Linked DNA regions of Homo sapiens. The protein of the gene in region 3 purifies or fractionates together with the protein of the main gene of each other region. This does not show direct contact. Each region holds a gene or a part of one and is shown on either strand. Other genes may lie near its edges.

Region 1 (3,500 bases), on a different chromosome or scaffold from region 3:
GGAGTGTAACAGGCTACAGCACGTGGCATGGCTGCACCCTTTCCCCTGCTGCCCCTCTAGTCAGCCTCTTCCCTAACCCCATCTCCCAGCAGCCACTGCTGACTTTCCCTTCCTCTCATTTTGTATTAACAGGTATTAGAGAGTGGGGAGCGAAAGCAGTGAGTTAACCACCAGGGCAAGCAGGGTTAGGGGCTAATTCCACTAGGCAAATCGCTTTGCTGCCTGATATCGCAATCTGTTTCCCCAACTGATGTGATACAGTCATCTAATTTTTTTTCTTTTTTTCAGATGGAGTTTTGCTCTGTCGCCCAGGCTGGAGTGCAGTGGCGCGATTTCGGCTCACTGCAACCTCCACCTCCCGGATTCAAGCAATTCTCCTGCCTCAGCCTCCTGAGTAGCTGAAACTACAGGTGCCCGCCACCACACCCGGCTAATTTTTGTATTTTTAGTAGAGACGGGGTTTTACCATGTTGGCCAGGATGGTCTTGATTTCCTGAAGTCGTGATCCGCCCACCTCAGCCTCCCAAAGTGCTGGGATTACAGGCATGAGCCACTGCGCCCGGCCCAAGTCATCTAATTTTTAAAGCTAGGAAGGATCTTAGAGTTTTCCTGGTTTGGATGCAGCAACCAAGAACTGGGTTTAACAGTACTGAGGTCAAGAGATTATTTCACGGTTTAACAATGTTCAATATTAGAATGCTATCCCCACAGCAAATCTAAAATATAGTCCTGACCTGGGGCCATTTCAGGGTGTGTATTGTTCGTGACACACTACCTTTTGAGCCCTGTTCCACATATGAAACGTAGCAGTGACTGTTTCAATCTTTTATCATATTTATTTTAAAGAAATGAACAGGGTTTGGAACCAATTCAAATAGAGGATGGAAGTTAGAGAAGCAGCAAGAAAAAGGAAGAAAGGGCTGATTGTGCAGGCACTGTCTGCACAGCTGCCATGTGCCCACGTGGGATGCGTGCGGGGCGGGGCGGCGATGCCCCCGGGGACTGATGGTGGAAGGGCTGGTCTGCTGCCTGCTCTGTGCGTCGATGCCATGTGACAGCTCCCCCCCATGGCCCAGCCTATGTGATCTCTCTGCCCTGCACTGAGTCTGCACTGCATTCACGGTGCCAGCATTTCAGTCAGTGCACCACATGTGCCTGTCTATGGGCCCGGCAGCCACGTGCAGGGCGGGTGGTGAAGGAATGAAGACTGCCTCAGCTCGGGGGAGCCTGGGCATTTATGAAATTTACCTGGCCTAGATTTTCTCTTAGGTCCGTTTCCTGTTCTATGAGTAGTAAAGTTTAAATTCAGGTTGAGATCATCAGTGTGGTCTAATGAAATATATATGTATATATAAAACTTTATTATGCCATATGTGCACATCTACTTTCATAACATTTTGTATTTTATAGAACACAAAATAAATACTACTGAATTACTCAAAAATTAAAAAAAAAATCACCGACTCCTGCATTTTACTATGCTGTCTTCTTTTTTCCATTACTTCTTATGTATGCTACTAATACAGTTTACTGAATAAGTCATAGATAGCTTTCTTAAGACCTTTTCTATACCAGTCACTTGAAACGAGAGCCAACTTCTAAATTCTCCTAAACCCAGAAGAAAGGTCTTACCTTATTCTGTCACTCAGAAGACATGCAAGTTACAGGTGACGAGATGTACCTACTAACGCTATTAAGTAGGTATATCTGCTTATTCTGATTCTTATTTGGATTCTGCTCTTCCTAGAATCCAAATCATTATTTTTAAAAGGTATTTTAGGAAACAAAACCTTGTTGAGCACATTCAACTGGCTCCTAAGAACAGCACACAGGACTTACTTTTTATCTGCTCCACTGGAAAGCTGGGGCAGGGCTTCCAAAGCCTGCTTAAAACTTGACCTGAAACACAAACAGCCACACTGAAGTTGAAGCCTTGCACAGGAGAACTGCTGACAAATTCTTAAGCATCCCTTAATTATTGAGAAGCCAATAAAAGCCAGTGAAGCAAGGAAATATGAGAAAAAGTAAAAGTGAAAAACAATAGAAAAAGTAAAAGTAAAAGCGAAGGTGTAGCTACCAGGTGGAGGCTTTGTAGCAACGGGGTCAGAAAAACTCAAATAGGAAATGAAACGCTACTTGAAAAGCTAAAGGAAAAACATCTTCGAAAGGATGCTAGTGATAGAGGAGAGCTTAATGTGAACATGTTTAATTTAAAAGGAGTCTTTTCAAAACAAGCAGCTGGGGATAATCCAGTTACTCTAAGAAATGGGGATGACCTTCTGAAAGATGACACAGTGGGGTGTTTACAGTATTTGGCCTGCACAGGGCCTGATCTACAGCCAATGTCTTGTAATAATTACAGTCTACTTAAAACTTGTAGAAAAATGGAGAGCTATATAGATGCTTTAAAAATTCAATGTAAGTTCTTTACATGAAGGTAAAAGGAAAGAATTTTAAAAAGAAAACTGTGGGATGTTTAGCTTTTACAAGGAGAAAGTATTAGAAAAATTACCAAACCAAATGAAAAGCATCATAGGGGAGACTGTGGTAATTAACTTGTACCATTCACAAAGGAACAGTTCTTTTATCTCTCTTATGATTGGTTAAGGTGAAGAAATACTGCAATTCTTGACTTTAGGGGGTCGTTGCTTTTATATTGTAAAAACATCCTCAATCTACCAGGAAATACGTTTTTGAGCAATATTCCTCAAATCAGGGGCAAGTGTCACAGCAACAGAGAGAAAGACTGAAAAGTTCCAACAGAGTCATAAAACCCGGTGCTGGGCATCTCCAGCTGCTCCCGGGAGGGCGCGGTGGGGTGTGGGACGGGTGGCTTGGCGCACTCGGGTCCCTTCCCACATTCAGCGGCCTCTTTCCTGGTGTGGAAGCCACTGCCGCTACCTCCACCATCAGCTTGTTTCTTATGAACCTCTTTTTGATTAATTGAAAGAAATGTGATGTAATTGTTTTGACAGTATGACAATAATGATAAACATACTACATATTATTGGCAGGGTACTGAAAATTAAAAAGTGATTTGGCACATTTTCTCATTTAACACCCTCAAAAGCTTGCCTAGAATATTTTAAACTTCCTCTATAGATGAGTACCTTATACTCTAAAACTAAGTCAGCAGGAAGAGGGTAGGCATTTGCATGAAGTGTGCACACATCCAACATGGGCTGGGTGCTTTCCATCCTGTTAGTATGTTGTACAGACAAACGATGGCTGGGAAAAGGTGTGGCTCAACAGTGAACATGGCCCACTAAAAATGGCTGCTGGTGAGCTGTGACCGACGGGAATGAAAGGCTAACTTCATTGGTTAGGAAAAAATGGAAAACGTATTTTCAGTTGCAAAGCTGACAGAATGACAGCAAGCCATGTTATCAGATGCTGGAAATGAGTGAGTAAGCATATTACAGTGTCCTCAAACATTTCATTTGCATACGACTTGGCTTCTCAGGCACATCAACACTATAACCCAGTATTTCCTAGGTAAT
Region 2 (3,500 bases), on a different chromosome or scaffold from region 3:
TAAAAAAAGAAAAATCCATTACCTTGAAGTGGCATAAATTTTTTTCATGAGATGCATGTTTATTATTACTAATGGTGCTGTTTTACATCATGAATATATGTGCTACAAGTTGTATAGCACTTCTGAAGTACAGTTTCATTATAGTCATTTGGCCCTCATAATAGCTTGTAAGGTCATTAGATAATGCTGCATTTTATAGGAAAAGAAACGAGGTTAAGAGAGGTTGGGTAACTGAAGGTCAGGCAGATAGTAAATAGAAGAACAAAACTAGAAAATAGATTTTCTCACTCCCAGTCATTTAGTTTTTCTAATATCAGCTTGGTTCTTTGCAAATTTGGGACACTAGTTCTAAGTCTTTAGGAAAAGGAGAAACCAATGTGAAATGATCCCAAATATAAGGGAATTCCCTACTTTTCTGATGAAACTATTAAGAAGGAAAGCTTTTTGCCAATTGTATAAACTTTTTAAAATGCAGCCAAAATAGGCCGGGCGGTGGCTCATGCCTGTAATCTCAGCACTTTGGGAGGCCGAGGTGGGCAGATCACCCGAGGTCAGGCATTTGAGACCAGCCTGGCCAACCAACATGGTGAAACCCCATCTCTACTAGAAATACAAAAAAAAAAAAAAAAATTAGCCGGGCGTGGTGGCAGGCGCCTGTAATCCCAGCTACTCGGGAGGCTGAGACAGGAGAATCACTTGAACCTGGGAGGTGGAGGTTTCAGTGAGCGGAGATCTTGCCATTGCACTCCAGCCTGGGCAACAAGAGCAAAACTCCATCTTAAAAAAAAAAAAGGTAGCAAAAATAGTCAAATATGTTCTTAAAATAGTTAATAATTCACTTATATGTATATGTTTTAAATAAATAAAGTTTAATTTAGAAATAATTACTTTTTTCCATTTTCATATTAATAAAACAATTTTTTCTAGATTCTTTATGAACATCATGTCATCACTGGGGCCACTTTTTGAATCATCAGTTTGGTATTTAGCAGTTTTGAATCCATGTGTGATATATTGGCAGTTTGGGAAATTTTATCCCAAGTCATAAAAACCCATTTATATAATATTAGGATAGTTGCTTTTAAAAGGAATATTTTGTAACTGATATTCAACACATGAAATTGTGAGTTCTGGCTAGGCGTGGTGACTCATGCTTGTAATCCCAGCACTTTGGGAGGCCAAGGTGGGCTGATCACTTGAGTCCAGAAGTTCAAGACCAGCCTGGGCAACATGGTGAAACCCCACTTCTACCGAAAATACAAAAATTTGCCAGGCATGATGGCACCTGCCTATAGTCCCAGCTCCTTTCAGGGGGCTGAGGCAGGAGGATTGTTCAAGCCCAGAAGTTGAGGCTACGGTGAGCCAAGATTGCACCATTACAGTCCAGCTTAGGTGACAAAGTGAGACCCTGTCTCCAAAAAAAAAGAAAGAAATTGTGAATTCTGATCCTCAGGATAATTACTAAATCCAGTGACCTTTTGTTAGTACTACATGCAAAACTAGCGTAGTTTGAAGATAAGATGTATCCCAGACAATTATTTTAGTTCAATATAAAGTCATTGAGGGAGCACCTTTAATATGAGAGACTATGGAAGGATTCAAAACTACACAACTCTTTTTTAAAAATATATAAGTATTCCTTACATAAAAATATATTACCATGATAGCATATTTTCACACCTAAAAAATTAGCAATAATTTTTAATATTATCAATTATTCAGTCACTGTTCAAATTTGATTTATACATTGTGATTGATTGACATGTCTAAGTCTCTTAATGTGTTTGTATTTTTAGTAGAGATGGGGTTTCACCATGTTGGTCAGGCTGGTCTCGAACTCCTGACCTCAAGTAATCCACTCGCTTTGGCCTCCCAAAGTGCTGAGTTTACAGGTGTGAGCCACTGTGCCCGTGAAAGTCAGTATTCTATTACTTGTCATGTCAGCTGGTCGTGGTAGTTCACGCCTATAATCCCAGCACTTTGGGAGGCCAAGGCAGGAGGATCGCTTGAACCCAGGAGTTCAAGACCAGCCTGGGAAACATAGCGAGATACTGTCTCTACTAAAAGCTTTTTAAAAATTAGCGAGGCTTGGTGGCACACACTTGTAGTCCCAGCCACTCAGGATTTCTTGAGCCCAGGAGTTTGAGGTTGTAGTGAGCTGTGGTCTTGCCATTGCACTCCGGCATGGGTGACAGAGTGAGACCCTGTCTTAAAAATAATACTACTACTAGTCATGTCACTAAATAAATATGTCATTCTATGGAACATTTCCTGAGATGCTGAGAAAACAGATGTGAAGAAATAATTAGTACTTACTTATGCATATGTTCCTGGCAGGTGCTGTTGGCAGCAGCGGTCTGCACAAAAGCAGGAAAGGCTATTGTTTCTCGACAGTTTGTGGAAATGACCCGAACTCGGATTGAGGGCTTATTAGCAGCTTTTCCAAAGCTCATGAACACTGGAAAACAACATACGTTTGTTGAAACAGAGAGTGTAAGATATGTCTACCAGCCTATGGAGAAACTGTATATGGTACTGATCACTACCAAAAACAGCAACATTTTAGAAGATTTGGAGACCCTAAGGCTCTTCTCAAGAGTGGTAAGAGTACTGCTATAATACTGGGTTCCACTTTTTGTTTTACATTTTATGTGAAACTAGTTTTTCCTCCAAAGCAGCTGATGCTAACCAGTTTGCAGGTTCCTACTCCGCACCCCAGCGACTTATTGCTGCAGCACCTTGTTTATTCAGCAGACATTTATTGGGTGTCCTCTTAGACTATAGATGTCTCAAAAGAATATGGGAACTACTGTTTCATTTCCCAGTTCTTAAGCAGTTGTTCTAATCTGCCGTTCTAGTTCTGACACTTGTTTGGCTATGCTTTTTAGGTAATGTTTTTTAGGTAAGACTTACTGATCCAGAGACAGACACACACACACACACCCCTCTTCTAAGACTTTATGCCAAAGTCTTGCTTAAAATGAAGACTTAGGTAAGACTTACTGATCCAGAGACAGACAGACAGACAGACACACACACACACACACACACACACACACCTTTTAAGACTTTATGCCAAAGTCTTGCTTAAAATGAAGGCTAAGGCCAGGTGCGGTAGCATGTGCCTGTAGTCCAAGCTACTCAGGAGGCTGAGGCAGAAGGATTGCTTGAGGCCAGGAGTTCAAGTGCACAGGCATTATACTTTAGTGTGGGCAACACAGCAAGACCCTGATTCTTTTTTTTTTAAAGACGGAGTCTCGCTCTTGCCCTGGCTGGAGTGCAGTGGTGCAATGGTGCAATCTCGGCTCACTGCAACCTCCACCTCCCAGGTTCAAGCAATTTTCTGGCCTCAGCCTCCCGAGTAGTTGAGATTACAGATGTGCATCGCCATGCCTGGCTAATTTTTGTACGGGGTTTCACCATGTTGGCCAGGCTGGTCTCGAACTCCTGACCTCAGGTGATCTGCCTATCTTGGCGTCCCGAAGTGCTGGGATTACAGG
Region 3 (3,500 bases):
GACAATAGGTTATCCATACTGGCATTCAGTGCTGATTCAAAATCAGAAAGTGTAAACAAGGGGAGAACAATTGTTCAAAGCCCACCATAATTCATTTTATATTTATTTATTTATTTATTTTTGAGACAGGGTCTTGCCATCGCCAAGGCTGGAGTGCAGTGGTGCAATCACAGCTCACTGAAGCCTTGACCTCACAGGGTGAATGTGATCCTCCTACCTCAGTGTCTCAAGTAGCCGAGACCACAGGCGCCCGAAACCACACCAGATTAAGTTTTTTTATTTTTTGTAGACAAGGGGTTTCACCATGTTGTCCAAGCTGGTTTGGAACTCCTGGGCTCAAGTGACCCACTCAAGTGCGGTAAGCCACCATGCCCGGCCCCACCATAATTAAAAAGTGGTTTTTTTTTTTTTTAAAGTGGGGGTTACAGCATGTTAAAAAGTGACTTGGGCCGGGTGTGGTGGCTCACGCCTGTAATCCCAGCACTTTGTGAGGCCGAGGCGGGCGGATGATGAGGTCAAGAGATCCAGACCATCCTGGCCAACATGGTGAAACCTCGTTTCTACTAAAAATACAAAAATTAGCTGGGTATGGTGGTGCACGCCTGTAGTCCCACCTACTCAGGAGGCTGAGGCAGAAGAATCACTTGAACCCAGGAGGCGGAGGTTACAGTGAGCCAAGATCCTGCAACTGCACTCCAGCCTAGGGCAACAGAGCAAGACAGTGTCTCAAAAAAAAAAGTGACTTGAAGGTGTTTCTCTGCCAAGTCATCCCTGCCCCAGGGATATAAGGTTTAAAGTTAAAGTAGCAAGGTGTCTCCACCTAACTCCAACTACCCAAGAGTCTCAAAACCTTCCCCTTCCTGCTCAGTGTTCTTTTATTTCCTTTTCAAGAAATGTGAACTGCTATAGCCAGAAACATGTTCCTTCAGCAGTGTTTGCAGATGGATCTCATGAAAGTTCAGAAAAGGGTGGTTCACTTCAAGCGGGAGACAGTGGAGTTCCTCCACTATAAGGCGAAGTTTGCAAAGTCCCACTAGTTTGCTCTGAGAACATGAGACCCTTAACCTCTGGGTCATGTGTTTGAGGTCCATTTTGGTGCAGGCATCACCTGATGCTAAAAAAGGATCATTGTTTAGTGTGGGGTTCTTAACTTGGGATGCTTACATCCCCTTCCCCTACCTCAAGAGGTCCTTGGGTAGAATTCAATGGGATCCATGAATATGAATGACAAAATAAACAAAACAATCTTTATTTTCACTAACATCTAACTGAAATTTAGCACCTCCTTTTATTATAAATGTAGGAAGCAAACCACAGTATTATTACTACTACTGCTACTATTACTACTACTACCTAGGAATTTATCATCAATAAAAATTATATTTTCATATCCTATTATAGTTATCTCAAAATACTGAGATTGCAGACGTCTCAAAACATCATTTATACTCACCACTACTTTGAAGTAAGGCAGTATTAAATCCTCCACAAATCTTCCTATGTCAGTAAAGAAGCATTATCTTGATATATCACAAATCTGGTTTTTTAATATTTTGATTATACTTCAATATAATTTTGCTTCCTTTGTAATGGTTTGTATTTTGTTTTATTCACTTAAAAATAAAAATACTCTGCCCGGCACGATGGCTCACACTTGTAATCCCAGCACTTTGGGAGGCAAGGCCGAGGCAGGCAGATCGCTTGAGCCCATGAGTTCGAGATCAGCCTGGGCAACTTGGTGAAACCCCATCTCTACAAAAAATATAAAACAATTAGCCAGGCATGGTGGCATGCACCTGTAGACCCCAGCTACTTAGGAGGCTGAGGTGGGAGAATCAACTGAACCTGGGGAGACTGAGGCTGCAGTAAGCCACGATCGCGCTACTGTGCTGCAGTCTGGGCAACAGAGTAAGACCATGTCTCAAATTTTTAAAAATATATATTCTGAGAAGGGGCTCCACAGTTTGCACAAATGAGTAGCAAAGGAGCCGTGACAAAAGAATCCCTGTAACTTGACAACAACAACAACAACAAATACCCTCCTTGCTCATAAGTTCCCACAAAGGTATTTATTTTATTTTGCTTAGGGTGGTGATAAATCATCCTTCAAAACATGCACACATTCATTTGTGAGCTTAAACTCTCCTCAATTTCTGATGCTGGTCATTTGCAGATCATTAGACCCAGAAGTGATTTTTAGAGACCAGGAATAGTTTCAACTAAAGAATTCGTTGGGATTCTCTTGGACTTTTCAGTAACATGGGCCAATAAAATTCCTTTTTCACTTGGAGTAATCCAAGTAAGGTTTTTGTCATTTGTACCCAATTGGGCTCTGACTAACACGGAACCCCTCTATATTGGTTGAGGCTGTTGAGGATTAGAGGAAGGTGGGAGACCATCTGGGTGGCTCATATCTGCATCACGTTGGATTGTGTCCTAATACCAACAAAACATTGATAACACACCTATCATTCGAACAGTTTCCAAGTGAGGTACTTGTAAATATGTTGTTTCATCTAATCCTCACAACAGGCTCTTCAGGTATGTATTATTCCCAACCTTTGTGGATGAAACAAAAAAGGACTAGAAATTTGTATTTGTATCTAATCTAAACTCCCTCAATTTGTATTCATTCTGCTAAGAATTCCTCCTACCAGACAAACCCACTCTGGGAACTCCAAGTCATTCTTTAAGACTCAATTCGGCTACCACCCCTCTATGGAGCCTCCCTCCCTTCATCTTCCCCTCCCAAGTACAGCCCCTCAGGTTAAAGACACCTGCACATCCCTCCATCACAACACCTGACACATTGTGCTGTCTGCTTACTCCTGTATACCACCCCTCCCAGACTATGTCTTTCCCAAGGGCAAAAATATTTTGTATCTCAAGTACAATGTCTGAGGCAAAGCAAGCACATAATAAATGTTTGATGTGAATAAATTTATTGGTCACCAGCTACATGCTGGCTTTAAATCAAGTGCTAGAATACAAAAGTGACTCACAGTTCAGAGCAAATAAACAAGAATTCATTGAATGCTACATAGTCCTAGGCATTGCAGATACAGGTAAAACACAGGTCTGACTTAAAGAAGCTTACTCTCTAGTTGGAGGCCGTTGACATGTAAACGGAAAATTTCACTAGAATTTAATATATATATTCTAGAATTATCTATGGGAAAGGAGCACTTAATAGGTGGAGAAGAGTGGTAGGGATGGGGTGTCAAGAAAGGTTTCTGAAGATGCCATCTGGACTGAATCATATCACAAGAGAAAGAGTAGCATATTTAAATCCCGAGTGAGTAGAGAGAGTGAACAAAATCAGAGAACAACCTGAGCGTAGAAACCTAGGGAATAGGCCAGGCGCAGTGGCTCACGCCTGTAATCCCAGCACCTTGGGAGGCCGAGGAGGGTGGATCACCTGAGATCAGAAGTTCGAGACCAGCCTGGCCAAGATGGTGAAACCTCATCTCTACTAAAAATATAAAAATTAGCCAGGTGTG
Region 4 (3,500 bases), on a different chromosome or scaffold from region 3:
AGCCCAGCTCAGCACTTTCCCTTTTCAGGACACCTCTGCTTAGGTGGTCCCTCTAGCTGGTCTGACCTCCTGTCTCCTGGCCTTCCCTGAGTCCAGATGAAGTTCCACCTTGTATTAGTCCATTTTCACACTGCTGATAAAGACATAACCAAGACTGGGCAATTTACAAAAGAAAGAGGTTTAATGGACTCACAGTTCCACGTGGCTGGGGAGGCCTCACAATCATGGCTGAAGGTGAAAGGCACGTCTCACATGGCAGCAGACAAGAGAAGAGAGTTTGTGCAGGGAAATTTCCCTTTATAAAAGCATCAGATCTTGTGAGACTTATTCACTATCACGAGAATAGCACAGGAAAGACCTGCCCCATTCAGTTACCTCCCACCAAGTCTCTTCTACAACACGAGGGAATTCGAGATTTGGGTGGGGACACAGCCAAACCATACCATATCTCTTTCAGGAAGCCCACCCTGATCTCCTATCCACAATGCTCACTCTTCTTGGAACTCTCACAGCACTTGTCCTAAAATGTTTTCCATGTTCTCTAATGTTCTAATAAGCTCTCCTTTTTCTAACTCCTAGGATAGATACATATATTACATCCCTATATATTACCTCATTAACCTCCACAATGCTCCTATTGGATAGGTATTATCATCCTCATTTTATAAGCAAGGGAACGAAGGCTGAGCTGACTCTTGACATGCAAAGGTCACACACCCAAGTGCCAGAGCCAGACACTTTTTTTCTAGGCCTCCCCATGAGAGCATCAGTGCTACAGGCTGTAGGACAGGCCTCTCTTCCTGTCCCCCACCACCACCTGCCACAGGGCTGGCACTGTGAGGCCCTTGACACATACTGAATACTGGCAGGAACCCCGGTGGACTCTGACTCATTTCTTTCACTCTCTGGGTGGCACCTGTTTCGGTAGCCTCTATTACGTAGGCCCCAGGAATTCTGGGGGCAGGGAGGACACATCTAGGACATTCCCCTCTCTCCCCCACCTCAAGGCAGGACCTTAAGTGATGTGAGTGGGAGTATGAACATCTCCAGCTCTACTGAGAAGGGGGTGGGGGCCCTGGGCGTGCACTCCAGAGCCCCAATGTCCTGCCCTTGCTGGTCACAGGTGCCATTAAGTCACCGAAGCCAGCCAGCCAGCCTCAGGGCAGCACTCCACCAACCCTGACCATATTTTCCCAGGCACTAAACAAAAAGCCTACACAGGTGCTGTTAAGCATTCAACTCCCCACCCACATGCCAGGAACTAAAATAGCTGTAGCGTATGTTAATCATTAGCCAGGCTGCACCTCAGACCTCCCCTCTGAGGGCTGGCACCTGGGGCAGCTCAGCCTGGAGAAACTCCAGACAAGGCAGGCTGGGAGAGTGGCAGCGTCCGGAGCCTCACCAAGGGGCTGAACTTGAGCAAGCAGGTTCTGAAAGACACTTCTTCAAGATAAAGTCAATTCCCAGTGCACTAGCATTTGGATTACATAAGAATCCTAAAATACTGGAGCTGGAAAGGGCCTTCATGAAATCATTTCATTCAACCTGTTTATTTTATTTGAGGTGGGAGCTGAGACCCAGAGAGCAGAAAGACTCTGCCTGAGGTCTCAGAGCTGGCTGGGGGCAGGACAATGACTAGAACCACATCTCTGGATTTCCAGGCCAGTGCATTATGAACCAGGCTGGTCCCCAACCACTCAACGTATTTCTGGGCTCCATCACACCTTCTCAGGCTGGAGAATGGACTTGAGAAATACAAAGGTTAAACCCCGGAAAGAGAAGAAAGTTACTACTGCCTCCCAAATAATGTCCCATATAATCAAGCCACTCAGAAAAGTACCAGCCACTCCATAGGAGCCTTATGACCCTGTTTCTCTCCAGATCCCCTCCCTATGTGTGATGACAACAGAGAATGGGGGTTGGCAACCACTGCTCTGATCTCTCAAGGATATTACCAGCCACGGAGACCGAACATCACCCCCACCTCAGTTCAGGGTTCAAATAGCCTCTGCCCTCAAACTCTCCTAGAAACAGTCACCTAGGTGTCATATTTGGGGTTGAAGAAGGGAAGTTGGGAGGAGGTAGCACAAAAAAATAACCCCTGGCCGGGCGCGGTGGCTCACACCTGTAATCCCAGCATTTTGGGAGGCCGAGGCGGGAGGATCACGAGGTCAGGAGATCGAGACCATCCTGGCTAACATGGTGAAACCCCGTCTCTACTAAAAATACAAAAAAAATTAGCAAAGCGCAGTGGCGGGCGCCTGTAGTCCCAGCTACTTGTGAGTCTGAGGCAGGAGAATGGCGTGAACCCAGGAGGCAGAGCTTGCAGTGAGCCGAGATCATGCCACTGCACTCCAGCCTGGGCGACAGAGTGAGACTCCGTCTCAAAAAAAAAAAAATAACCCCTATCCCACTGGGTCTTGGAGGGGGCCCCTCGATCCCATGGGGTCTGGAAGATCTGGTGGTGGCTGCAGCAATGGAGTATGCGGATGCCAGACCTGACGGCTGGGAGCAGCAGATGACTCTCGGGGCATCAGCAAAGCCACAGCAGCTTGCCAGCTTGTGCACCAGCCCACAGGAACAGAAGCTGCCTTGCTTGCACTGCCTGCGGGCTTGCCACTGTCATGAGAAACCATTCCCACTTCCTAACCTGAGGAACACAGGCTTAGCCAACAGCAAGACTGATAAGCATAGTAGTAGTTTCAAATTCAGGAGAGCAGTGGGTGGTGTTCCAGAAACTTCTGATTGTCCTCCTCAACCATCTGTTCTCTCTTGCTTTAGTAACAGAACACACCATAGCCTGGCACACAGCAGCCCCCACTAAGGACTGCTTTCCAGACCCCTAGCAGCTAGGAGGGCCTGCCATGGGGATGTGAAAGTGAGCTGTCTTGGGCCATGCAGTTAAGGGAGGCACCTAGACGGTGCTACCCAACATGTGGCCCGGCGGCATTATACAATATGGGAGCCTGTAAGCAATTAACGTGCTCAGGTCCCATCACAGACCTCCTAAATTAGAATGATTCAGGGTGCAGTCCAAGAATCTATGCTTTAACAAGCCTTCCAGATTGTTCTTATACATGCTCAAGTTTGAAAACCACAGCCCTTGAGAATGCTAGGGACAACAGTCCATAAGGAGCCTGGTGCCAAGACAATCTCATGGAACACACACTTAACCTCGACCCTGATTTTTCAAGAAAGAGTGAGAGAGTGAGTGAGAGAGAGAGAGAGAGAGAGACGGGGCTCCTCTCTTCATTCACAACCAAACCTGAAACGTAATACAGGTGGCGTGGGGAAGATGACGATGAGAAACTTAACCCAACAGCAAAAATCAGGAAAGGAATGCATGCAAGTATAATAAGTAATAAGCAAGATGCAAAGAATAAAATCAAGTATATCTGGTATGTCAACAGTCAGAATTCCTCTACCAAAGACAGAAACCATGCAATTAGGTTTGTTGCTGTTATCATTGCCTTCTGTCAACCTCCATCCACCCTCAACCA

The links. The genes of interacting proteins can lie anywhere in the genome.
Region 1: the proteins of PGM1 (region 3) and EXOC2 fractionate together in Homo sapiens (co-fractionation; one large-scale study listed by BioGRID). This does not show direct contact.
Region 2: the proteins of PGM1 (region 3) and ARCN1 fractionate together in Homo sapiens (co-fractionation; one large-scale study listed by BioGRID). This does not show direct contact.
Region 4: the proteins of PGM1 (region 3) and ANXA11 fractionate together in Homo sapiens (co-fractionation; one large-scale study listed by BioGRID). This does not show direct contact.

The regions. Positions count from the first base shown.
Region 1 is NC_000006.12:487,140-490,639, forward strand, and holds part of EXOC2 (exocyst complex component 2), read right to left. Parts: intron 1,900-3,500; coding exon 1,840-1,899; intron 1-1,839. UniProt on the Homo sapiens protein: Component of the exocyst complex involved in the docking of exocytic vesicles with fusion sites on the plasma membrane.
Region 2 is NC_000011.10:118,578,909-118,582,408, forward strand, and holds part of ARCN1 (coatomer subunit delta), read left to right. Parts: intron 1-2,337; coding exon 2,338-2,601; intron 2,602-3,500. UniProt on the Homo sapiens protein: Component of the coatomer, a cytosolic protein complex that binds to dilysine motifs and reversibly associates with Golgi non-clathrin-coated vesicles, which further mediate biosynthetic protein transport from the ER, via the Golgi up to the trans Golgi network.
Region 3 is NC_000001.11:63,596,411-63,599,910, reverse strand, and holds part of PGM1 (phosphoglucomutase-1), read right to left. Parts: intron 1-3,500. UniProt on the Homo sapiens protein: Catalyzes the reversible isomerization of alpha-D-glucose 1-phosphate to alpha-D-glucose 6-phosphate. The mechanism proceeds via the intermediate compound alpha-D-glucose 1,6-bisphosphate.
Region 4 is NC_000010.11:80,195,538-80,199,037, forward strand, and holds part of ANXA11 (annexin A11), read right to left. Parts: intron 1-3,500. UniProt on the Homo sapiens protein: Binds specifically to calcyclin in a calcium-dependent manner. Required for midbody formation and completion of the terminal phase of cytokinesis.